Regions from separate parts of the Homo sapiens genome. Here regions 1, 2, 4 and 5 are each linked to region 3. Evidence: fine-mapped QTL for protein levels in blood plasma. A gene starts in region 3. Each other region holds a variant in brackets. All regions are shown on one strand. Distances are between the middles of the regions.

Region 1 (5,107 bases), 290 kb before region 3:
ACAGAGCTGTAGCCCAAAAGCTTCCACTTAGTACCTCAACCCATGAGTCATGAATTACAGAGCAGGGATACACATTGTAAGAACTTTGTGAGATACCTTAAAATGTGTCACCCCCTGATTAATTATGTTGATCACCTCCTGTTTATTTGCCTCTTAATGTTAAGCAGTACGACACTTAAATGTAAGTATATCTGGTGTGAGTCTTTAGTGGTAGCAAAGAAAGGATGAGGAAAGTGGGTAGAAGGGATGAAGGTGGGAAGAGTTGAAAAGAATGTGACCTGTTTTATATCCAGTTATGAGGGGGATGGCCCAGAAATCCAAGTCATAGAGAGGGTACTGGTCCCCCAGAAAGGAGAGGGAAGTGGGCTAAGTTCCTGGGCCTGTGGTGGTGAACCAATGTCTGGATGCACCTGAGAAGGAACCCTGGGCCCTTTGAATGTCTGGATCGGGAGATTACTCCTTGCACAGGTCACAGTCTCCTTATAAACCTACCTTATTTCATCCATTCTTAAGAATTTCTCGAAAACCTTATCTTGAATTTAATTAGTTAGGTACTACTGACATTGGAAACTTGAAAAAACAAACAAAAAAAAGAGAGAGAGAGAGAGACTTAGAGAAAGACTCTTCCTTAATCTTCCCTGGTTGAAGTTGGTTGGATGGGGTGTAGTGGGAGCATGAGAAAGTTATTGTGGAAAGGAGGCAGAAGAGCTGGTGGCAGAGCTTTTGCTGAAAACTAAAATGATTTGAAAGCAGCAAAAGACATGAAAATTACTTTCCCATAATTATGGCTAGAAATGATTTTTTGATGCCTTCATGTTGATTTCTTGTATCACCTTCTGGAGGCCTGGAACTTCATATTCAAGATACCAGGTTATAACATTTAAATTAAAATGACCTTAAAGTTTTTTTTTTTAATTCCGTGCTTTGAATCCGGGTAATGTTAACCTTGATTTTGTTTGACCCACTGGAAATGTTTCCACTTGGCTCATTTCTGTGGGCAGCAATGGATTAATTCTTTCAGTGCCCAGCATTCTGCCCATTGCTGATTTTGGCTCTGGGCAACAACAGCTCATCTCTGGACTCACCTCTATTCCCCGGTAGGAAAAAAGGAACTCTCAGTGATGAGGGACTAACCTTGTGGGTAGCAGGCAGTTTTTGTGGTCAGATGGGTAAAACCAAGGCAGGCAAGGACTGACAGTCACAAATGCAGTTTAATAATTTCTCTCTTTTTCTTCCATTCTCACTTTTCAGTTTCCGTTCTCATTCTCATGACTACTCAACATATTCATGACTTCTCTTAAACTTCTGAACTACTCTTAAGCCCTTCGTTTATCAGGAAACCTCATCTCCCATCCTGTGGAAAAGGGAGAACCCCCATAACCTCCCTTAATTTTCCATGAATGCCAAGCTGTGTGGACCCCTCCATAGCTCCTTCTTTTCTGTCCTCCCCTGATCTAATATTTCTTCCTCTCTATTGGTTCGTTCTCTTCTGCTATATACGTGCTCAAAAGTCTCATTTTCTACAACCTAACATTTCTTACACAATATTGTCTGCTCCAGAAGCTCCCAAGCTCTCTCCTGTCCTTCATCAATGTAGTTTTTAAGTGGAAAGTATCCACTTGCTGTTTTATTTTTCCATTCCATTTTTATTGCTCACCACACAGAAATTAAGCTTCTGCCCCTTCCTTTCTAACGAGGCTGTTCCTATGGTGGTCATTACCATATACTTACTTCCTAATTGCCAAATCTAGTTTTGTCATTTCAATTATTATTGTATTTTATTTTGAAACGATTATTCGTAACCATTTTGTTCCTGCCATTGTTTTAAGCATTTTCCATATATTATCCAATCTAGTTCTCAACATATTCCTGTGTATTAAGTGTTATATTTCACATTTTATAAAGAAGGAAGCAGCTTTGCTTGACACTATTAACAACTTCCTCCATCTGGCACATTTTCTCCTCTTGGTTTCTGTAAGACGACTGTAGTCATCTTTATTTTTTTCTGACACCCATTCTTTCTCAGTGACCTAAATCAATCCCACATTCATATCTGTGTGCCTGTCTCAATATCCTTTCCCCTTGTGTTCCTGATTCATGTTTTTAACTACATAATTAGTATCTCTCCATTCATGCTCAAGAAAACAAGCCTAACTCATTATCCTACCATTCATGTTTTTGGTATACATTTATAGAATCTGTAGACTCTATATCACATGCCTGGAATTGTTTGCTGTGCTGAGGGCATTAAGATGTGCAAAGCACAGCCCTGTCCTTGAGGACCAGGAGATGAACTTGCAAACAATTATAATACAAAGTACAGGTACTACCACAGGAGTATGAGAAGCAGCAGGTCAAGAAGCAACAGAAGGGAATCTGTAGCTGCTGGATGGTTCAAAAAAGTTTCCTAAAAGAGATGAAAACTTCCGACATCACTATGAAAAAGATTTCTAAGGAGAAAAGGAGAGAGAAAAGTAATACGTACTACAAAAGGGCCCAGCAAATACAAACGTGTGGAGGTTCTAGAGAGAGACTGGTATCTGAAGGACAGCCATGGTTTACTAGCTTAGATGCTGAGGGGTCAGCATTCTCTACACGGTTGACAACATCACTATTGAATTATTTATCTAGGAAACATCTGGCTTTCCCATCCTCTGATAAATCCTCCACAATTATTTATGATAAGAACCTTAACAAGGGCAGTGACCACAGGAAGAAAGAGAAGATATGACAGGCAAAATAAGTCCTATGGAAAATGGAGTCAAC[A/G]ATTTTTACAGTTGCAATCAGTATTGTTGACTCCATTTTCCATAGGACTTTTTTTGCCTGTCATATCTTCTCTTTCTTCCTGTGGTCACTGCCCTTGTTAAGGTTCTTATCATAAATTATTGTGAAGGATTTATTGCTTAAGATTTGAGAAAGGAACTCTGCCTTCTCTGTTATCAAGCCCTTAACCCTTTTCAAAAATAAATATGCCTACATATCCAGATGCCCTATTCAGCTAACTTAAAATTATGCTGGTTTTGAATTTTGAAATAGAACTAAGCAATTTTGAAAACATCAGAATAACTTTTCTCAATGTGAAATCAGTTAACAGTGAACCCCATTTTTTTTTAATTTATGGAAGGTATTCTTGTCATTTTACTTATCAGAGTGCAGTGATCAGCATCAGAGACCAGGAAGACATGGTTATATCAAGTGCAAGAAAACTTAAGGGATAAACAAGGGTGTCTCTGAAAAGAATGTTAGGAGAAGAATGTGTCAGTGTGTCAGTAAAAGGACTTGGAATATGATGATTACCAAAGAAGCTATGGAAGAAGCCAGAAAAGCCAGCTATATTTTGTTAAGAGATAAAGGAAGAAAAAGAAATGGTAATGGGTGATATATTTATGCAGTCATGTTCCCAGCTGCACCACACCATGGGCTGAGATGGCTTTGAGTGAATCTTAATCCTCACCCTAACAAATGGTTTATGTGTGAAAATAATACTTTGTTTCTTTTCTCTTAATTCTTTTTCAAATAGTTTTGTAGATTTTGTTTTATCCTCACCCTAACTTTACGGATAGGAATTATTATTGTTCATTTCACAAAGGAAAGAAACTGAGGCAGAGTGGTTAAGAGGTTTGCCTAAGATTTTCAAAAAGCTAGTAATGAACAGAGCTATAATCAGTTCAGTCATACAAGAACTCTTGCTATTACATGAGCCTAAGAGTCAAGTATTGAGAGGACTGAAATTATGTACCAAAATACAGAATTCTTGAATGCTGATTCTGAAAATTTTGTAAATCAATATAAAATTTGCAGACATGCTAAATACATTTTCTAGAAAATATCTGAAAGTTACTTGCTCTAAGCTTGGATGATAAAGTTTTGTTCTTTGTTAATATTATTTGCTCAGGCATGTTCCAAATTTCATATAGCCATCTTATTATCTCCATATTTGCAAATATAGCTATCATACTGGACACTGTAATTTGGGCCTTACTAAATTAGTCATCATATAATTTGGTATTTGGTAAATTTGGTTATCATATAAATAACCACAACAGGTGTTAAAAAAACTATATTGTATTGCTTACTTCCTGCCAATATGTCTCTTTTCCTCTTCTAACTATGTAAAAAAATTACTTTTTGTTTTTCCCTTTTTAAAAATCAGCTACAGTATTAAAAGGAGGAAATGTGTTTCTCACAGTGCTAGGTCCGTTCTCATGGGATCGAATAACAGAGTCCTGGCTAAGGGCTCAAATGCCCTGCTCAAATCCTCAGACAATTCCAACATCCCCAAAAACTCTGAAAGGAATAAGTAAAATTAACTTCAGTTGTTTCCTTAAATATATCTTGTAGAATTTTATAAATGTACATATTAGTTTGTTGTCACACTGCTATAAATACCCAAGACTGAGCAATTTATAAAGGAAAGAGGTTTAAATGACTCACAGTTCCATATGGCTGGGAGGCCTCAGGAAATTTACAATCATGGCAGAAGGAGAAGCAGGCATGTATTACATGGCAGCAGGTGAGAGAGAGTGTGTATAGGAAAAACTGTCAAACACTTATAAAACCATCAGATCTCGTGAGAACTCACTATCACGAGAACAGCATGGGGGAAACTGCTCCCATGATCCAATCACCTCCCACAAGGTCCTGCCCTCAGCACCTGGGGATTATGGGATTATAATTCAACATGACATTTGGGTGGGAACACAGAGCCAAACCATATCAATGTACTTATTGCAATCTGCTATGGCTGTATTTTCAAGACTAGGGACAATTGTGACAGAACCTGACAGTCATGAGACAAGCTTATTAACCTCATTCTTTTACCTGTGGTAGAGGCATGTGAGTGGGCCCCCGCACTGTTGATGACTTCTTCCCAAATGTCAAGTCTTTCTTAAGTCTTTAAGGGATGAAATACTATCCAAGGTCAAAAAGAGCCCTTTTTAGTCTCCCCTTCAGGTTCTGTGAATTTGCTCTCTCCAGGGATGGATGGCGGAACTGCTATAGTACCCGACAAACAGGAAATCTCCAGAGCAATTCTGTATGTACAGCCTGCTTTTCCTTGCTTTCATCAAGTTTAATCTATTTCCTTTAACAGTGCGTAATTTCAGAC
Region 2 (5,107 bases), 170 kb before region 3:
TTCTCCTTGAAACTCCTGAGAGTGGAGGGCCTGGAAGATGCTCCTGGCTCGGTAGGTTTATGAGAGGGTGCTGATCTTGGAGCTGCTTTCTACGGGTTGTGCTGGTGCTCTGCCCACTGCAGGTCCCGGGAACACTGAGTTATGGCAGCCAATTCTGATGATGATAAATGATCACAGCACTTGGCCTTCAAGAAGAGACCAGAGCAACCAAACAGAAATGCATGTGTCTGAGCAGTTAGACTAATTCAGTTACAACTGCTGCCACTTTTGGTTTGCAAAAGGAGCTAAGAAATGTTATAGGCAAGCTAGAACTTGAATGGAAATGTTGATCTGGTTTCCTCATTCATAGGAAGAGCATCATGCAACTGAAGGACATTTCTCCATTATGACTAAACCAGGTGGATAATAACATCTATTTTTCAGTTTACAGACACATGTTGTTTTTACAATGCAACAAGTTAGATATTATTTAACAGTTAACCAAGTAGAACGTGGATGCAGACAAGCCTGGTGGTCATTGAGTTATTCAGGGCTTCTATTCATTCTAAGATGATTTTTGCTATACATGCTACTAGAATTCATTTTTCAGAGATCATACTCAACCTTTCTTTTTTTCTGATTTGATGGTTTGTGCTGTTACAAAATAAAAAATAGTGGTACCTTACCATTTGTAATTTTAAAAATTCGTATGAAAGATTATTAAATATAAATTACTTATAATTTGAGGGAAAGAGGGTTATCTTTGAGCTGGAGAGAAGAGCATATCTTTCAAGGAAAAGCTAAGTACCATTTATGTAGGAAAGTAATTTATATAGAAAAGATATCAACAATCATGTTTGGAGGGCATGGTAGATATATCCAAAACAATTTGTTTATTCTCTATCATCTGAAGAAATATTAACTAAAGTCCTTGGCTATTCTTTGATTATACTGAATGAAATAGCAGCTGCATTTGACCAGGAGTTAAGTATTTCAGACAGCATTATCTAAGTTTTTACAGCATGAGCTGAATAGTAGTGAATGAAGATGAATTTACTAAAAGTTTCTCTCCTAGGCAGGATAGAACTTGCTTGTTAGGCAGAAAAATTGTAGCAAATAGTAACAAATTGAAGAACACAGCTCTAGGGATTAAGGCAGTCAACGAAGAGATGGATCTTTGTTCTCGCTGACTTTTCTCTTAGGTTGTCACTTGCAGCTAGCTCTGTGCTGAACTGGACCAGACGATGCCTGTAGGGATGGAACCAAGTCATCCTGCTTAGAAAACCAGTCTCAGAGGTGGCTACATCTCTGCTTTCATAGTGGTTTTTAGTCCACCATCCTTGACCACACTAGGTCTTGTTGCTGCACGGCTTGTTTGCTGAATAGAGTATTTCATACACAACAATGTGTGGTGCTCTCTGGCCCCATCACAAAGTTGCCTTATATGCCTAGATGTCAACTGGAATCAGAAAGTCAGAAAAGACATCTTGAACAGGCTCTGTCTAGCACAGGAGTTCTCAGGAGGCATGAAAGGGCACACTCATGCTTATTTTTCTGCGACAGGGTTCTGGCTAATATACTCATCCATCATTTTCTTTTTCTGTGCACAGAATGAGGAGATACCTTTTTATTTGGTAAAGTCTATAATATTGAAAAGTTGTCACAGAGCACGGGCCCATCTGACAGTGAATCAATGGTGATTATGAAAGCACCTTAGCCATCTTATCTGACTATATGGTTAGGAATAAGAACATTTGATTCCTTGACCAGAAATTACCACCAACTCCAAAAATAGACATAAAGGATACACAGTTCTCCTAACAAGCAAAACATAGGTCTCTTGATTCTTCTTCTGATTTTTCATTCAGCTTCACAGTGATTTTAATTACTTCAGAGCACTGACCAATTACTTCAGAGCCCTGACCAAGTGATTTTAATTCCTTTAGAGCACTGACCAAGACAGCCAAACACTTAGAAGAAAACATAACTAAATGACAGGCCGTGAAAATAATAAGACATTTTTGAGGGATGTAGCAAAAACTAAACTGTAATAAAAGTGTCTGAAGAAGCAGAGCCTAGTAATTAAATGCAAAATGAGTGAAGCAAAAGCAAAAAGAGATTTTGGGTCATCATTTCTGACTTAAGAATGATGGATAACCAGTCACCCACCAGTAGTAGGCTGGTTGTTCACCCCCAAATCTGCCCCCCACCCCAACACCACTACCCACATCCTAAAACCTGGAGCCTGTGAATATTACTTTATTGGCCAAAAAGGACTTTGAAGATGTGGCAAAGGATCCTGAAATAGGAAGATTATCCTGCATTATCCTGGTGAGCCCTAAATGCAGTCATACGTGTCTTATAAAAGGGATGCAAATGCCAGAGAAGAGGAGAAAGCGTTATGACTATGGAGGAGGAGATGGGAATGATACGACCACAAGTCAAGGAATGCCAGCAGCCAGCAGAATCTGTTAGACACAAGGGACAGATTCTGTCCGAGAGCCTCCAGAGGGTGCTGCCAACACCTTGATTTCAGCCGCCAAATACTGATTTTGAGTTTCTGGCCTCCAGAACTGTGGGAGAAAAAATTTCTATTGTTTTAAGACACCAAGTTTTGATAATTTGGTATAGCAATCTCAGGAAACTAATGGTTTCCTTATACAAACCATTCTTTTTCCTTTATAGAAACCAAACCATTTCCTTTCATTCTGTTATCTGTTACACCATCAATGAATCAGCCAAAATAGGCAATAGGCACTACAGATAACACAGTCAGCAGGCGTTTTTTTTTTTTTTCCTGGTTTATGATAATCTTCATAAAAGACCTGCCAGACACCACTCAAGAAATTTCCAAATGGCTTTCAATCTTTTGGTCTCTGTTCCTTCTGGTTTTTTTTTTTTTTTTTTTTCCAGAGTATTAACTTCATTTAGCAGTTACAGCTGTTGACCTGAAAGTCCTTATCAGCAGCATAGCAGATGAGTGAGAACAAGAGTTATGGGTCCTGAATCTATAGGGAAGCCAAAT[C/T]AAACACAGCTAGAAAAATGCCTCCACTGTGAGTAAAGACAACATATCTTCTTTCACATGTTGTACTAAGGATCAGGAGAGCTGAAATCTCATGTTGATTTCTGATGATTACCTTTGTCTTCTTGAGCAAATGACTTAGTTTCTCTAGGTCTTAGGGTCCTCATCTGTAAAATGAATCAATAAGATACACTGTGAAATTCCTTGAACCCTTAACATTCTATGAATTTATCCAGCCCTGAGTTGAAATTAAAATTTATAACAAGCTCAGCTTTATGGACAGAGTTTGTGGTCACCTCTATGGGTATCAGATATCTCATCATCCTAATCACAAATACCAGAAATTTCACCCATAGAAATGACACAGAGAGAAAGAAAGAGAATATATGTATATATATTCTTCTGTTCATTTAAAAACTTCTGGGTAAAATGACGTAACACATTAGAGTAAATTAACTTATCAATCTTTACTATAGATGTTTTCATTCTGTTATTGTTATAGACACATTACACTAGAACTATTAGCTTATATGTCTGTCTATCCCACTAAACAACAACCTTTCTGAGAGAAGGGACTAGATCTTATATACCACTGAATCCTCATGACCAAGTACTTAAATGCTGGTACAAAGCAAGTGCTTAGTAAATATTTGTTGTATAGATGCATGGCCAGCTGGGTGACTTCTCTCCCATGATAGGATATCAGAAGAGAAGTGGGCAGTAGAATGGCTGAGAAGGTCCCAGGAAGGGGAGCACAAAAACCAAAAACCAAAAACATCATCTACATCTCTTAGCTGTGATGGACAATACAGTTCCCAAATCACCTATCCCAGACTTTTCTCATAGCTTAAAACCTTCATCATGTTTCCTTGGAGAGAAAATTGGGTGCTCTTCATCAGAGGTTTGGTTTCTTTTTAAAACATTCTTTATCTCTCTGAAGCACCATTAGACTGTTAATTGAAATAAAAGAGACTTAATTTGTAACTGGGACTTGTGAAGTGGTAATTAGAAACATATGCTATATTGCATTTGAATGCTTTCCTTATTATTAGCATGTCTATTGATTCTTTTTAAACCACTCCGTTCAGTTGAATTTCAGTAGATGAATTTCAGGTATTTTTCCATTGAAAATGACAGTGAAGAAAATTGCCAAGCAATGAGACATTAAGCAAAGAAATGAGTATTTGGCTGGGCTATTTTTCATGATGTTTGCTATTTTTAAAATAATTAATACAGCTTGTAAGGAAAAAACTATGGTGAGTTATGCCCCACTCTACCTGCAAAATTAGTCTAAAAACACAATGTTATCAAGAGTGGGACTGAACTTGATTTGTAATAGATTACTCTTTAACACTTATGGCTTAAAAAAAATCAGAGAGTTCTTAATTTATAGCATCTTTAGGAAAGGGTGCTGATACTAAATTAAAAATATTCCACTCAGTTAGGTGACTCTGTGTTTAAAATCTCTTCTGTTACTAGGAACCAAGATATTTACAATGTTTTGTTTCTTTTTAGGCTGACTTGGGTACTAATATTGAGAGATATGGGACCTTTTTCCACATCCTTCTCAGACAAGCCATTCAAATCACTACAGTTATACTGTAAGGTACTTTCTATTACACTCTGGTACATTGTTATCTATAAAATATATACTCAAATAAATGAGTGACAAATACTCATCTTCATTACATAATTAAACTGGACATACTTTAGCTAATAAATAAGATTTCTCTTCGAAAACTAACTTTCTATCTCTGTTAAATCTAATCCCTGAGAAAGTTGGACCCTTAGCAACTGGTCTGTGGGTGCAAATAAGATCAAATCTAAACTACTCCTTCCTCCGCAGTCCCTGGCCCCCTTTTCCTTGTATTAGATGTCTTCGTTCACTGCCCAGAACTTCTGTTTTACCTCTAGTCTCCATGTGCCTCTTCCTGAATCATCTTCATAGTTCTCTGCTCTTCACCCTTCAATTGCTTTCTCTCTCCTTGCCTGTTTCTTAGGAAATGATATCACTCTCTGGCTTCACCAACCACAAACTAGAGTGTGTCTGATTAGTAGCAGACACTAGAGTAGTCTGCTACTAGTTAAGATCTGGCTCATTATGAA
Region 3 (5,107 bases):
AGTGTTGGGATTACTAGCAGAAGCCATTGTGTCCAGTGGTTCATTTTTTTTTTTGTATGAGCGAAAGACAATCAAAAAGTGTCCAGCACCTGAGAACAAAGAGAAATGGCAGTAGTCAGTGCTCCATGAAAACTGAGTATCAGTCCTTGAATTTTATTTTAGTCTAAAGATATATTTAATTTTATTCAGAAGATAGATATAGGTAAGTTTGAAGTTGAGTCAACTTTTCTCCTGAATATGATTCTCGGTAAATGAGTGGTAAAATTCCCTCCCCTAATAATATTTTGAAGGAACTGGGAGGGTCTAATCTGACTTTACTCTGAATGTGTCATTCCAAAACTGGCTGTCTGTCTCAGTGGTTGGTGCATTAGAGCCAGCTCACACAGATTTTGGCCATGGGGAGCTCTGGCTCTTGGAGATCTTTTCCCACCTCGGCATTCAGTGATTCTGCAGTGGCAGCTTGAAATTGACCTTAGTGAGCACATTTACATCACAGAAATCAGTTAACTATACAAAGCATCCCCATCCCATTTATTTTTCCCTACTGGAGAGGTGATAATTAAACATTTATCCTTATAGTTTCAACTATCATTCTTAATCATAGACATCTGCTAATCAAAGCTGACAGCATTTCCAGATCAGGCTGGTTTTCCTAGGACTGTGACCTTGTAACATGACATCAGAATGACTGAAAACTGGCACAAGGATATAATGTGCAAAATACCTCAGATTATTAACCCACTTTGAGCAAGTGTGTCCTATACTTTTCAGGGCTTCCTGAAAACTTGAAAGAGAACTTCTGTAAACTACCCCCAGTATCCTCAGAAGTCAAGAATAATTATTTACTTGAGAATGTTGAATACAACAAGAGAAAAGGGGAAGGGAAGACAAGTATATTAAAATGTCTTCAAAAATATCTTTAATATTTTATGTAAAATTTCACTGTAGGTAATTGTTTGTATTAAAAAAAAAAGTGGATCACAAGCTAATATGTCAAAGGAACAGGGAACTTTAATGGATGCACTGACATTAGGAAATGTGTGGGAATACACTGATCTGGTCAAATCTTCAGAACTCCCCAAGGCTATCTCTCTGGGCTGCTATGGTTCTTCTCCAAAAACATAGATACATACAAAAACATAGCTTCATACATGCTTGGTTGGGGTGTAAAATGGTACAATCATCTTGAAAAAATCCTTTGGCAGTGTCTAACATTTCTAAGTATTTTATCCAAGAGTAATAAAAATTGCAGGTCCACACAAAGCAGCTTTTTTCATAAGAGCCCCCAAACAAACTAGAAACAACACAAATTCCAGTAATAAGACATTTGTGATATATTAGAATATTACTCAATGATTTAAAGGAACAGACTATTGATACACACAGCAACATATTTATACATTGTGGGATATTCATACGTTTTGGTAAATTCATACCTTGGACTACGCAGGAATTAAAAGAAACAGACTATTGATGCAGTGACCTGGGCGTATCTCAAAAACAGGAAGTGTGAGAAAGAAATACTACACAGTGAATACTTTATAATTCCGTTTATATGAAATTCAAGAATAGGCAAATCTAATCTATGGTAATCGAAATGAGAAGAGTGTTTGCCCCTGGCCTAAGGATGGAAGGATTGATTTAGGAAAAAGTCTGCAGGAGCTTTCTGGAGTGATGGAAATGTTCTAACTCTTTTTTTTTTCTTCTTCTTCTTCTTTTTCTTCGTTTCGAGACGGAGTTCCACTCTGCCGCCCAGACTGGAGTGCAGTGGCGCCATCTGGGCTCACTGCAGCCTCCGCCTCCTGGGTTCAAGCCATTCTCCTGCCTCAGCCTCCCGAGGGGCTGGGACTACAGGTGCCCGCCACCACGCCCGGCTAATTTTTTGTGTTTTTAATAGAGACGGGGTTTCGCCATGTTGGCCAGGCTAGTCTCGAACTCCTGATTTCAGGTGATCCACCCGCCTTGGCCTCCCAAAGTGCTGGGATTACAGGCGCGAGCTACCGCGCCCAGCCAAAATGTTCTAATTCTTTATTGGTGGCTACACAGTTGTCAAAATTTATCAAACTGTCCACCTACGATATATTATAAGCCTGTATTAAATGTAAATTAGAACTCGATTGAAATCTGTGTGTATAAATATAAATATACACTTATTTACATTTCTAATCTAATCTGAAGGTCCATTGCAACGAATCCCGCTCCGCTCTGACCCAAGAACTCCGCACTTTCTCTCCACCAGCCTTTCAAATACCTGAACTTCATGCCTTCAAGAGGTGGATTCCGGCTTCTTTACAGCGCAATCACTAGCAGGTCATTTCCGTCTAGCTTGCAGATTTCCCATTACTGACACAAACGCTCCCTCAGGGCGTCCCCGTCTGGACTACAGGAGAAAGTTTGGGAGGCAGGTTCAACTTTTCAACTTGGCGGGGAATTCCTCTCCCTCTTACACAGTTTGCAGCGCGGGGGCGGCGGGGTGACAGTCCCCGTGCATGAATCAGCCACCCCTCAGGCTCCGCCCCGGCGGGGGTCGGCCGGACGCTCGCCCCGCATAAAGCGGGCACCCGGGCCGCCTGGAGCAGAAAGCCGCGCACCTCCTCCCGCCAGGCGCTTTCTCGGACGCCTTGCCCAGCGGGCCGCCCGACCCCCTGCACCATGGACCCCGCTCGCCCCCTGGGGCTGTCGATTCTGCTGCTTTTCCTGACGGAGGCTGCACTGGGCGATGCTGCTCAGGAGCCAACAGGTATCTGGCCGCTCCAGGAGCTTCTCTCCCCAACCGGCGGAGAGGGCGCAGCGGGCCATGGGGCCCCGTGTAGGCGCCCTCCAAGCCTCGCTTTCTCCAGGTCCCTGCCGCGCGCTCCGCTGGCAGGGGGGACTCGCTCCCAAGTTTGCACTTTCTCTGCAGAGGCCCCTCCGCTCGGAAGGGGACAGAACTCCCCGGGATGTTCTTTCCTCCTAGGAGCTACGCCTGACCACTTTCCCTCTCTTTTGCTCTCCTTCTGCCCCTTCTTCAGGAAATAACGCGGAGATCTGTCTCCTGCCCCTAGACTACGGACCCTGCCGGGCCCTACTTCTCCGTTACTACTACGACAGGTACACGCAGAGCTGCCGCCAGTTCCTGTACGGGGGCTGCGAGGGCAACGCCAACAATTTCTACACCTGGGAGGCTTGCGACGATGCTTGCTGGAGGATAGAAAGTAAGTGCCCTGCGCGCACCCAGGACTCTCGCGCTCCTTGCGCCGGCGGCTGGTAGCAGCTTCGCCAGTTTCCCACGTCTCGCTTTCTACAGGAAGTTTTAGCCTGGGTTTTCTCAAGTGTTAAGCAAACCTCATGGTTTTCAGTTTCTTAAAAGTAATCACAAATTTACAACCACTAACACATTTCCTGTCTCCCAACTGACATTGATCATAATTCAGTGCCTGTGCGGACTCAGGGAAAGATTTGTTCCCTCACCATGGGGTATAATAAATGCAAGAGAATAACGTGTTAGGTACAACGTAAGTGCTTCTCTGTATTTTTCATTAATTCCAAACCTATGATTTTTATCTCTCCTGGAGTACATCATTTCCTTCTGTCGATTATCCATCAATCTGAAATATTTTTAGTGGATTTTATTATTGAAGTGTGACTTAGCTCATTATATAACTCTACTTTTGTCCCGATACCCAAACATGTGTTGGATTAGTTGCGGGACATGGTGGAGATTCATAATACTGTTATATTTTAATTTATTTTTAATTTTTAAATTATATCGGTTAAGGCCTGTAAGAGAACATGGGGCTTTTCCATTCAAGGAACTGAGCCAGGGGAAAATGCGTATTCATGTGAATAAGCTTTGATTCACTGCATATGTACAATCAGAGAACACCCAGAGAAAACAGAGAGTCTTTCTACTGAACTTGAAAGATACATCACAGCTGAGTCAGCTCTGAATACACTGTTAGAAAAAAAAAAAGTAAATATCTGGATTCATGGGAGTATTCTGGGTATTTACTATCCCAACACTAATACAACTTCTCTCCCCCCACAAAATGTTGCTGAAAATACAGTGATGGTTTAATAAGAAGGCTACTTTTGACTAACATTGTTCTATTACCCTCCTTTTCCTAGAAGTTCCCAAAGTTTGCCGGCTGCAAGTGAGTGTGGACGACCAGTGTGAGGGGTCCACAGAAAAGTATTTCTTTAATCTAAGTTCCATGACATGTGAAAAATTCTTTTCCGGTGGGTGTCACCGGAACCGGATTGAGAACAGGTTTCCAGATGAAGCTACTTGTATGGGCTTCTGCGCACCAAAGAAAAGTAAATACGATTTTTATGGTATTTCTATTTCACTTTTTTGAAAAGACATTTGGGTGGAAAAAACTCAATTTGATGCGAAATTAACATGTGCATTTTCATGATTTCACATTACTTGACAAGTTAGTGACTTGTCAAGTTCTTAGGACTGGAAAGTGACAAAGCCATGATTCAAATTTTTGCTTTCTGCCTCTTCTGATTTGTTGTTTTTGAGACGGACTCTCGCCCTGTTGCCCAGGCTGGAGTGCAGTGGCACAATCTCGGCTCTCTGCAACCTCTGCCTCCCGGGTTCAAGCGATTCTCCTGCCTCAGCCTCCTGAGTAGCTGGGACTACAGGCGCCCGCCACCATGCCCAGCTAATTTTTTTTTTTTTCTTCTTTCTCTTTCTCTTTCTTTCTCTCCTTCCTTCCTTTCTCTCCTTTCTTTTTCTCTTTCTTTCTTTCTTTCTCTTTCCTTCCTTCCTTCCTTCCTTCCTTCCTTCCTTCCTTCCTTCTTTCCTTCCTTCCTTCCTTCTTTCTTTCTTTTCTTTCTTTCTTTCTTTTTTCTTTCGACGGGGTGTCACCGTGTAAGCCAGGATGGTCTTGATCTCCTGACCTCATGATCTGCCCACCTCGGCCTCCCAAAATGCTGGGATTACAGGTGTAAGCCACCACGCCCAGCCCTGAATTGTTTCTTTAGAACTATTTCTCAGCTACTCAATTTATGCATAAAAGATTAAAGTATTCATTAATGAATGTTATGACCTCAGATTTGTACACAATAAGTTATACATGTGAGATAGTGGAATATATACAGAATTAAGATGGTGAAACTT
Region 4 (5,107 bases), 81 kb before region 3:
TCAAACTTTTACCCAACAATTTCAGCATTCATTAGTGGTGTTCTAATGGTGATTTTCCATTTCCCTCATTCCTTCTTTACTTATTAATTGGAATCTTTTTCTAAAGAAGAGCTGCCTCTTCTCCTACATTTATGTATCTACTCAAATACTTATCTTTATCACTATGGCACCACAGATATTTACTTTATTCTATGGATTATAATCCAATTACATTTTTTCTTTTTGTAAATTTTTCTAGCTTTGGGCATTGGGATCTTTTCCATTTGGCTCCTGTGCCCTTTCAACATGCCCTATTCTTTTTTGAGCACTGTCGTACTTCCTGCTGCTGCATGGGGCTAAAGTCTTATCTTGTATATTTTCTGTGCCAGCCTTGGAATCAACTATATCTCCAAGGAGTTCTGGTTCCTTTTATTAGATAAAGGTATTAGAAACAAAAATCTGGGTGACAGGTGTGCTTACTACTAACAGAGTGTCACTACTTTTAGTACCTGTCAGTGAACATGGTTTCAGAATACATATATTATACTGGTTATTGCATACACATATGTCTAAGTTTATGTCAGTATTTATCTTTAAAAATGATGAATTCATATTGATATCTACAATTCCAATCCAATACTACAGGGTTTATTCTAGCTATCCCTTTTCTTATATATAACTTTTCTATTATAGACAAAGAGAAAACTGACTCTCATTTTCTTCAATATATGCATGTATTTTTTTCAACCCTAGCATACAAAGAAAATAGCTTCTGAAATATGAATCTGTACCCATTTGGGAACAAATTTACTAAGGAAAGTATATTATTTGTGTGCAGTTCTTTTTGTCTTTAGCCTCATACTATTCAATCAAAATATTGTTTTCCAAAATAAGTTAGTTCTTCTTTTACACCTCCTGTAGTGTTCTGTTACTCATTTTTAATACAGTTAGATACATTTGCTACAGTTTGTATTCTAGTTGGGGTTCTTCCCAGGCCTGGTGCATTTTAAAACCTTTATGTAGCATATAATTCAGTATTTGTATGCAGTGTCCCTGTTCAGATTCCTTTGTGTTTCAGCCTTCTCATCACAGGGCCCAGAGGCCAGGTGTTGAGGTATACATGGGAAGCCTATAGACCTCTCTTATCTGTCTTTCTGTGTTCTCGCCCCATGATCAGTAGTCACTAGGTTTTTAAAATGTATGGTTTGTATGCATACACATTTTTTTTTCTGAGTTCTTTATACAGCAGTTCAAGTAATTCACATGGAAAATCTATTTCATGAAAACTCCTTCTCCAGAGTTTGTCTCCCCAGAGCTAAATTCTGGTGGATGGGAATAATATACACTTTGTAGTTCAAAAAGTTCGGGGAACTGAGGATCCCAAAACCTTCCTAGATACAGCTGAAGTTTTGAGCCTTTACTTTAGTCATCAGCTAGCAATGTAGTAAATATGATTCAAGAATGACTGTTCAATTCTGCTCAACAGCTATAGGAGATCTAAAATGCCAGGCTTTTGCTTAGTAGTAAGACTGCAGAATCCTTAAAAACTGCAAACTCTCTTGTTCCATACTGTGGACAATCTTTCATCCCACATGTGAAGTTTTGACATCTGTGGCAGCCATGACTGAATGCAACCCAGGACTTCTTTTTGATATCTGTTAACTATACTTCAAATATCTGTATAACCAAATAATTCATTGATCTTAAATGAAAAAAGTCTCAGATTTTCCTGTTCTCCTTTGTATTCCTGATACTCTTTCATTTCGGAGCAAAATTTCTAGTTTTAAAGTTGGAAAGACTAAAGAATTCAGCCAGTTTACAGCTTCAAAAATAAATGATATGCAGAAGATAAGGCTGTCTTGCAGTAGTAGAATAATAGAATCTTCCCACTGAAATGTACAGTTTCCTCCATTGAATTGTGAAGGGCAGATGATAGAAGAAAAAAAAAAAAAGATACGAGTGATGCTGTCTACCCACTTTTTTTCCCTAAGGAAAGTGTTGAAGATGTTTCAAAAATAATAGGAAAAAAATATTCAATTTTATCTCCATGCAGGGATTCTTATTTTAGAATAGTAGGAAATGGCTATCAAAAATAAT[A/G]GGAAAAAATAATATTCAATTTTATCTCCATGCAGGAATCCTTATTTTAGATTAGTAGGAAATGGCTTTCTACCACTCTGAAAAGTCTCTTCTTGGCCAAACATCAAAGTCTGGAGCCAGAGATGTAAGCAGAAATGGGGCGGAAAGAGCTCACATGTTGAATCAATCAGCCTTGATTTGAATCAACCTTCCATCAATTACCAGCTAAGTAACTTTAAAAAAGTCACTTAATCTCTCTGGCTTTCTATTTCCCCATCTGGAAAGTAACACATACCTCACAGGTTGTTATTAGGAACAAATAAAAAATTTGTGTCAAGATGCGTGGCACATAATAGGTTTTCTGTAAATGTTAATTGAATAAGAAAATAGCCTTGGTTCAACATATTTTGCCTTTAAGCCAACGACAATGATAGCATTTCATGCATATTGGTTTCATTGCCTGACTACTTAGGCAATGTTATTGAACTTACAGTGTTGTGACATTGTTACACAGGAGAAGCAAACGTTGTCTCTGATGGATGGCAGCTCACACTCTAGAGCTAACACTTCGTATACAATCACAGATGAAAGGAATGACTTGCTAATGTCTATAGCAAAATTCTGGCCAAATATTTGATGTCGAATGTTATTCTCCAGGTGGGAAGGAGCACAATCTTAGCTTGACACCTCAAATAAAGCCCCTTTTTAAGAAAAAATAAATTCTCCTTAGGGAATTTTCTCAAGAATGCTTCTTTTTTCATATCCAATGGCTTTTTTTTTTTTAAGCTTGCAGTTTCTGGAAAAAGCTGTACAATATCAAAAAGCATTTCATTTAATAAAGCATTTATCTGCACCTTTAAAATTCAGATTACTTCATGGAAAGTTACCATATAATTTAAACTTTCTTAGTTAAATCTCATTAGTAATGAATCCATATCATTAATACAATTTCATATGTATTACATTAACCTATAATATAATAACTATGTAATTTATTATGTAGACCGAGACACTTTGGAGAGTGAAAGTGGGCTTTATTAATTATTATCCTGAAGTCATAATGTGAGCATAAGTGGGGCCACATAGGGACAGCCTTGGACAAAAAATGTTTACTAGGCCTACTACTGACACCTAAGAGGACTGCTCACAAGGTACTGTGAAAGGAAGTAGGGCTGTTTAGATTCAGCAGAAGCATATTGTGATTATTTTTCTTCCTGAATTGGGAGATTTGCATGCCACTTTCATTTCAGCATTAACTGTTATTCCAAGAAAAACTCTGTAGACTTAAATTGTCCTCAAATTTTAAGGCAGGAACAGAATTCCTGTATTGATGGCATGGACTTGGATTTATTACTTGCTAATGCATTAACAACAGTAAGTCAATTTATGACTATTAGATTTGAGCTTCATTATATGGTACCTGTTTCACCAAAAAGGGCACATTGCTTTTAGCAAGATATATTGTTAAAAGGGGGTCTGGGCTTTTAAATGAAGTGTGAAGGGAAACAAAGGTGCCTATTTATATATTGTATTCTATAGGTATTTCTGCTTAAGTATTATTTACAGTATATACAGTATATATTTTAATCTATTGAATTTATGTTAGATGCAGTAGAAGTTGTTTTAATATACTGCAATATTTTCTGTCAGGCAATTTGCTTAATAACATAATAACATAAATTACAATCTTCAGTACTTGCTATTATAAGTAATTCACAGCTACTTAAAACTTTCGATAATAGCATGTCCCCCTATTCAGGGACCAGGCAAGATATATTTGTTTCATCTGTGTCTGTCTTTTCCAAGATTTCTATGTTCATTCTGACAATTTACCATCTAGCTACATCTTCCAGCTAGTATATTACTAACACTCTGAAATATTTAAAGAAAAAAACTAAATGGTTGAATTAAAATACAAATCGAATTAATAAGTTTGAGTCGTTTTTGGATTAAAACCAGATTCTATGTAATATTTAACACATTTATTCCCAATTACATTTGTGAACACATTTTCTCTTTATATAATTAATTCATTTTATAATCCAAATAATATTTTTAAACTGTTTACTATGGAGCACTATTCCCATTTTTGGGATGTCAATGTAAGATGGGCCTTGTCTCAAAGAGTTGACTCTAATACTTTCATTATTTAGAACAAGGCAACAGAGTAAGAATTATGACTATATATTTGCATTATATGTGCTCAGGGTTCAGAAAAAAATGCGTAAAATATGCAAATTCTAAAATTATTTTGAAGTCTAGCTACTTAAAAGGTCAAATAAGTGTTTTCTTCTCGAGAGCTAATGGAGATGGAGAAAAATCCACCAAACAAAGAGGTGCAATTTGGCCCTGCATTCATTAGCTTCTCCACACACTGTCACCTACCCAGACAAGAGGAGATACTTACCCAATGTTCCAGGGGCTACCTGAATGAGTACATTTCCCAAAGAGGCAACCCTGTTTTCTGCTAGTATTTAATTATTTCTTTTTCTCCCCTCTATTAAACAAAGGTCTTGGTGAATATTCTTTGCAAAATCCACTTATTTCCCTCTTTCATGAATGTTAGATTGTACAAAATTTTATTGCAGAGTAAAACATCTTTAATGCAAATACTCTAATGTAACACATTTTGTATGAAGTATTGTGAATTTAGGTATTTCATTTACAAAGAGCCACTGACTAAAAACACTTAGCAATTGATACTCTCTCTGTGAAGACCAAAAAAGGCATATAGAAATTCATCAAATTAATAAATATTTGGGTAATTATGACTTATCCAAGATTGATTTCAAATAGTATACATTGTTTTCTGCAATTCAATTTTGAAATTTATAGCTAAATTCAATGAGACCAAGTAGGGCATTTGAAATCATCATAAACCAGGTGAGAAAAGAACAAATTATCATTTCCAGAATCTTGAAGAATCAAGGATAAAGAGACTAAAAATTAAACATATGAATAATTCAAATAGCCACAAATAAAGAATATAGAAATATATGCCGTGTGAGATTGCACTGACTGTTGTAAACTGAAATAAGCACAAAAATACTTA
Region 5 (5,107 bases), 500 kb before region 3:
CGGAGTGCTCTGCAGCCCCGACATGGGCAGAATTTGCAGATCTCCGGCGATCAAAGCAGGAGCTGTCCAGTCCCGCCTCACCTGTGCCCTGTAGGCCACTTGTAGGGTGGAGGGCTCCAGCGGGAGCGGAGGGGGCAGAGAAGGAGGGAGGGAAGACTCGATAGCGTGGCGCAGCCGGAGCCCGCCTCCCCGCCCCTCCACCCCTGCACCCCGCCCCCAGCCCCGTCCAGCTTTTCTCTAGCTTTGGGGCTCGTGTGCGCCCACTGTTTCAGCAGTGATGCACTCTCTTTGTCTTATGACTTCGGGAAAGGGCGGGTCCTGTCTGTGGAGGGCTGGGTTGCAGTCGGAGGGCGCCTTTTGTTGGCAGGTGGGCTGGGGAGCAGGCTCGAGGCTGCTTGGCACCCGGCTACAGGGAGGATAGGCTTTGCGAACTCTAGACTAGACCGAGTCACCTGGGGAAGTCCTTCGACCTCCTAGCTTGCCTTTGCTGAGGCTCATTCCAAAGAGGGTCTTTTGGGGGATGGTCTGGCACTCCGACACGACTCCAACCGACCTGGAGACCGAGAACTTATTTCTCAGTCTCTCCTTTCTGAGGCTGCGGTGGGGGATCTTTCATGGTTTCCAGTCTCCCCTCCCCTTCTCCATGGGCTCCTTGTCTGGATTTACCAGTTCTACCCTGAGCCTGGACCCTTCAACCCTCCCGTGAGCCCCCCGGTCCCTCTTGACCTTGCTGCTTACTCTCTGTCCCATCTCTTACAGCCACACCCAAGCACCTCCCCTAGCACATCCAGAGGCCCTTCTGATTCGAGCTTGGGGTCTTCGTAGTCTTCGCTGGTAACACCCCAAGCAGTGCGCCCACCAACGTGGATGTTAACTCTCTCCCCAGCACCCAACTTCCCTCTTCTCTGGCCGCCTCCATCCAACCCTCCACTCCCTACTAGGGAGAGGAGGAACTGGTACTTTGACCCTGAGGTGGGAGGCCAAAGGTCCTGTGCCTTTTTCTAAAGCCTCTTGGGATGGCATTCCAGGCCCTAGGTTTGAAAGGCTGTGTGTGTGTGTGTGCGCGCGCGCGCGTGTGCGTGTGTGTGTGTGTGTGTGTGTGTGTGTCAGGCCTCTCCTCTACTTGCCTAAGGTCCCCATGAGGCAGCGGGGGCCTAGTTAGAGTGCTGCTCTATCCCAGAAGTCATCGCAAAGGGGGCATCTTTAGGTCAGTTCTGTCTCTAAGAAACAGAAGCAAGTGGGCTGTAGTTCCCTGAGAATCTTTTTCCCTTCCTTCCCCCCACCCCCTCCCCGCTTTTTTTGCTTTGCCTTAAGGAAGAATTTCTGCAGAAGTTAACTCCATCAGCAGCTTCTGTAAATAAAAGGGACTATTCTAAAGCAGGTTACTCTTTCTAAATGTAAAAGAAGAAAAAAAGGTTAATGCAAGTAAAAGTGGATAACCAAAAACTATAATAAACTCTTGTTTTATTCTAATTAAAGGCACTCACTTGGGAGACCACTTTGGATGATTTTTTGAAGTAACTGGGAGTGAAAGAATTTGAAAGGGTTACTGGTCATTCCTAGAAGGGGGTTTACAGGGAGCAATCCACATTCAAATTTTTTTCTAACTAGGCAACAATGTTTGAAGTTTTCTAGGTTCTAGGAACAACAACAACAAAAGACCTGAGGTTGAATTGTATATTCCAAGAACATTTTTAACATTTCCCTGAAATATCACCGTTACAGAACTAACAAAAAACTTTTAAAGTGGAAATCATTTTTATCAGGAAAGAAAAACTTCAATACTACATCATAACAAATTTTTTTCTGCATATCAGAAGAGTGAGAAATGATTTCTAAGAATCATTGTTACCACTGTGCTGAATTACCTTTGCAGGGCATATGTGTGTATTTGTCCTGTGTTGCTGAGAGTCAGAGACTAATTCTGAGCAAAATGACTCAGGGTGGTAATGCAACAGATTTATGAAAGAAACCCTCCAAATACCCTTCAGTGAGGTTATCTGATAACGCTTCTGGGGTCAAGTTGGCTCAATCATTGGATTTGCAATAGATATCCCAAGTTTTAAACATTTCATTGTAGGTTTTGTTGTTGTTGTCAAAATAGTTTAAAACATAGAATGTTTTTAGAAGTGTGATTATAATTTCTCTTTTAGCCAAAAAAGAAAAATCCTCAGCAAGTTTTTGAGAATTAGAGGACTGTAAATTGAAGCAGACATCTATAAACTTAGAGGGAAAACGTCTCTGCTAAAGGCAGCAGAGTGAACTGATAACTTGAAAAGCATTCCTGGAAACTGATGCAAATACCAAATGCCGCTGTGCTCCCTCCCTGCTGATGTGGCAGGGTTTGAAGCAGGCAGCCGTCAGCATTTGGTGGGAGGCCCTGGACCTAGAAACA[A/G]AAAATGAAAGTGGAGAAAACCAAACAAGAATCTTTCTTTCTTAAAGTGAGAATCAAGTTCTAATTGCAGCTGTTTTTCCATATAACTTGGGGGAAAATAGTTGATTAGGTGTTTGTTTTAAAGGAGGAATTTTTAGTGGTCAGTTAGATCTCTGTTAAATATTTTTGTGACTCCAAATAAGGAGCAGTTTTTCCTGGGGATGGGGGTGGGACTGGTAGAGCTGTGAGAGCTGACCCAGAACCTGAACTGAATGCCCTGGTGAGGGCCCTGATGGTTCTAGTGTGGGGAGAGGGGAGAGGGAGGGAGGAGAAAATGAGTAGAAGGAAAAACAAGTAAGGGGTGGGGTGGGGTCAAGACTGAGAGTAGAGGGATGGAAGAAGGGAGGCAGAGGAGACTAAAGATTCCTACAACTTTGGTGCTAGACGGTTAATACCTGGGTTCCTATGCCCAAATTATTTTCTATGAAAGAAAAGATAATTTCTTTAGCTTCCTATAACCCACTGATTACAAACTGGGCCACATGTTTATATATGGCAAGAAAATGGTTGAGAGTCTGGCTAATACAGAAATGCAGAACAGCCTGACGAGGCCCTGATGTCTTAATCTTATATTCCTTTCTTTGATCAAAGGTAAACATCGGACTGACATCTCCTTTCAAACATTCATTGAGGATCTACTCTGTGAGAAGAAGCAATACCATGTTATCTCATTCTAGTTCCAGTTCTAGTTGACTTGATTGTCAAACGACTGCTAAGAAGGTATTTGCTGAGAATTAATGTGGTAGCTGAAGAGTTAAGTGCTGGTTTTTAATTTTGTATTTATTTATTTATTGAGAAGGTCTCACTTTATCACCCAGGCTGGAGTGCAGTAGTATGATCTGGGGGCACTGCAGCCTCGAATTCCTGGATTCACGTGATCCTCTTGCCCCAGCCTCCCTAGTGGATGGGACTACAGGTGCATGCCACCATGCCAGGCTAATTTTTTGTATTCTTTGTAGAGATGAGGTTTCACCATGTTGCCTAGGCTTTTCTTAAACTCCAACTGAGCTCAAGTGATCCACCTGCCTCTGCCTCTTAAAGTGCTTGGATTACAGGTGTGAGCCACTGTGCCCAGCAAGGGCTGATTTCTTTCTGTGATATTTGTTTGAAAGGCATGGAGATTCCTGCTCTGTGTCATATCAATTAGGATATTCAGTTCCCATTGATTATTTAAATGAGTCAAGATATATATATATATATTTTTTTTTTTTTGAGACAGAGTTTTTGCTCTGTTGCTCAGGCTGGAGTGCAATGACACGATCTCAGCTCACTGCAACCTCTGCCTCTTGGGTTCAAGCGATTCTCCTGCCTCAGCCTCCCAAGTAGCTGGGATTACAGGTGTCCACAACCACCCCTGGCTAATTTTTCTATTTTTCAGTAGAGAGGAGGCTTCACCATGTTTGCCAGGCTAGTCTGGAACTCTTGACCTCAGGTGATCCACCCACCTCGGCCTCCCAAAGTGCTAGGATTACAGGCATGAGCCACCTCGCCCAGCTGGTAAGATGTATGTTTACTCAAGCAATATTTAGTGTTATGCCAGGCACTTACTGGGTTGGTGGGTATATAATTATGAAACAGAATGCCAAGGTCATTGCCCTCAGGGGGCTTATAGTCTGTTGGAGGATAGAGAAGAGTGTGATGAATACTGTAATGGAGGAATAGAATGCTTACATGTTTATGGGAGGATTTAGGATGGACACCTCATCTAGATTCAGATAAGTGGAATCAAGGAGGGCTTCCTGGAGGATGCAACATCCTTGTTCAACCCTTAAATACAAACAAAATTTTAAAAAGAGGTGTGAGAGTGGTGTGGGCACAGAGGCATTGAAAAATTTGGCAATCTGAGGAATGGAGCATTTCAGTACGATGGGATTGTGGTGGAAAAGAGGGAGGATAGAGGAAGGAGCTAGAGATGAGATTGGTGGTTTTGGCAGGGACCAGATCAAAAAGGACCTTTTAGGCTGTATTCTGGTGTTTGTGTTTTCTCAAGTGTGCTATGGGAGTGTTTAGATTATTTTAAACAGAGAGGGTAGGAAACCAGAGAGTGTTTTGAATAAGATGACTGGGGCTGCAGTGTGGAGAAACGATTAGAAGGGGAGCACAGTAGAGACAGGGAGAACAGTAAGGAGACTGCAGCAGGAATTCTGAGGGGAAATGATGGTGGCCTGAACTAGGATAGATGTGGTGGAGCTCAAGAGAAGTTGATGAGCTATAGAAATGTTTCAGAAGTAGAAGAAAAGTGCTCTGATGTTTGGTAATGGGGAGAGAGAGAGAGAGGAAGAATTCAAGGGGATGACTTAAGGAGCACTGCCAGTTTCTGGCTTTGGCAACTGGATGACTGGAGGTGCCATCCAGTGACTTGGGGAACATTTGAGGAGGAGATAGCTTGGGGTGGGGAGGGGAGGATAAAGAGGCCAATTCATGTTCAATTTTGGGTGATTGTGGGCCACCTAAGAGGAGAAGTCTCATAGATAATTAGATACTTAGGCCTCAAGTCCACAATCTCTATTTGGCCTTGACTTATGGATAAAGGAGTCATCAGATGACTGATGTCATGGGAGTGATGAAATCTCCCAGATTATATGTGTGTGTGAAAGTAGAAAACAATCAAACATAGGACAAAACTCTGAAGAGCTCCAATGTTAAAGAATGAACAGAAGAGGAAAATCATCA

Which allele goes with the higher level. Positions count from the first base shown, and alleles are read on the strand shown. Strength reflects both the effect of a copy and how common the allele is.
With allele G in place of A in region 1, the plasma level of the protein whose gene starts at base 2,578 in region 3 is lower (weak association).
For the plasma level of the protein whose gene starts at base 2,578 in region 3, allele C in region 2 goes with a higher level than allele T (weak association).
For the plasma level of the protein whose gene starts at base 2,578 in region 3, G is the low allele of the variant in region 4 and A is the other (weak association).
With allele A in place of G in region 5, the plasma level of the protein whose gene starts at base 2,578 in region 3 is lower (weak association).

What was found. PIP is the posterior inclusion probability: the model's chance that the variant is causal. The UK Biobank Pharma Proteomics Project read protein levels with antibody pairs (Olink). The fine-mapping took linkage between variants from a reference panel, not from the people measured, so its PIPs are less certain.
Region 1: its variant is fine-mapped to the plasma level of the TFPI2 protein (UK Biobank, PIP above 0.99).
Region 2: its variant is fine-mapped to the plasma level of the TFPI2 protein (UK Biobank, PIP 0.99).
Region 4: its variant is fine-mapped to the plasma level of the TFPI2 protein (UK Biobank, PIP above 0.99).
Region 5: its variant is fine-mapped to the plasma level of the TFPI2 protein (UK Biobank, PIP above 0.99).

The regions. Positions count from the first base shown.
Region 1 is chr7:94,174,515-94,179,621 of GRCh38, reverse strand. No RefSeq gene overlaps it. Among named protein-coding and RNA genes, the nearest start is that of BET1, 170 kb to the right of the region's middle. The variant A/G (reference allele first, on the strand shown) is at 2,767.
Region 2 is chr7:94,062,487-94,067,593 of GRCh38, reverse strand. It overlaps LOC130890646 (a long non-coding RNA gene), which reads right to left. Exons shown (of 4, transcript NR_186703.1): 4 at 1-3,168. Among named protein-coding and RNA genes, the nearest start is that of BET1, 61 kb to the right of the region's middle. The variant C/T (reference allele first, on the strand shown) is at 3,005.
Region 3 is chr7:93,888,224-93,893,330 of GRCh38, reverse strand. It overlaps TFPI2 (tissue factor pathway inhibitor 2), which reads left to right and starts at 2,578. Exons shown (of 5, transcript NM_006528.4): 1 at 2,578-2,740; 2 at 3,012-3,194; 3 at 4,108-4,296. The coding sequence starts at 2,653. It overlaps TFPI2-DT (TFPI2 divergent transcript), which reads right to left and starts at 2,437. Exons shown (of 2, transcript NR_134235.1): 1 at 2,252-2,437; 2 at 1-89.
Region 4 is chr7:93,969,668-93,974,774 of GRCh38, reverse strand. All of the region lies in intron 1 of BET1-AS1 (BET1 antisense RNA 1), which reads right to left. It also overlaps a transcript of BET1 not described here. Among named protein-coding and RNA genes, the nearest start is that of BET1-AS1, 3.8 kb to the right of the region's middle. The variant A/G (reference allele first, on the strand shown) is at 2,077.
Region 5 is chr7:94,389,452-94,394,558 of GRCh38, reverse strand. COL1A2-AS1 (COL1A2 antisense RNA 1) reads left to right here and starts at 2,367. Exons shown (of 6, transcript NR_147206.1): 1 at 2,367-2,441; 2 at 3,026-3,154; 3 at 3,813-3,931. The variant A/G (reference allele first, on the strand shown) is at 2,396.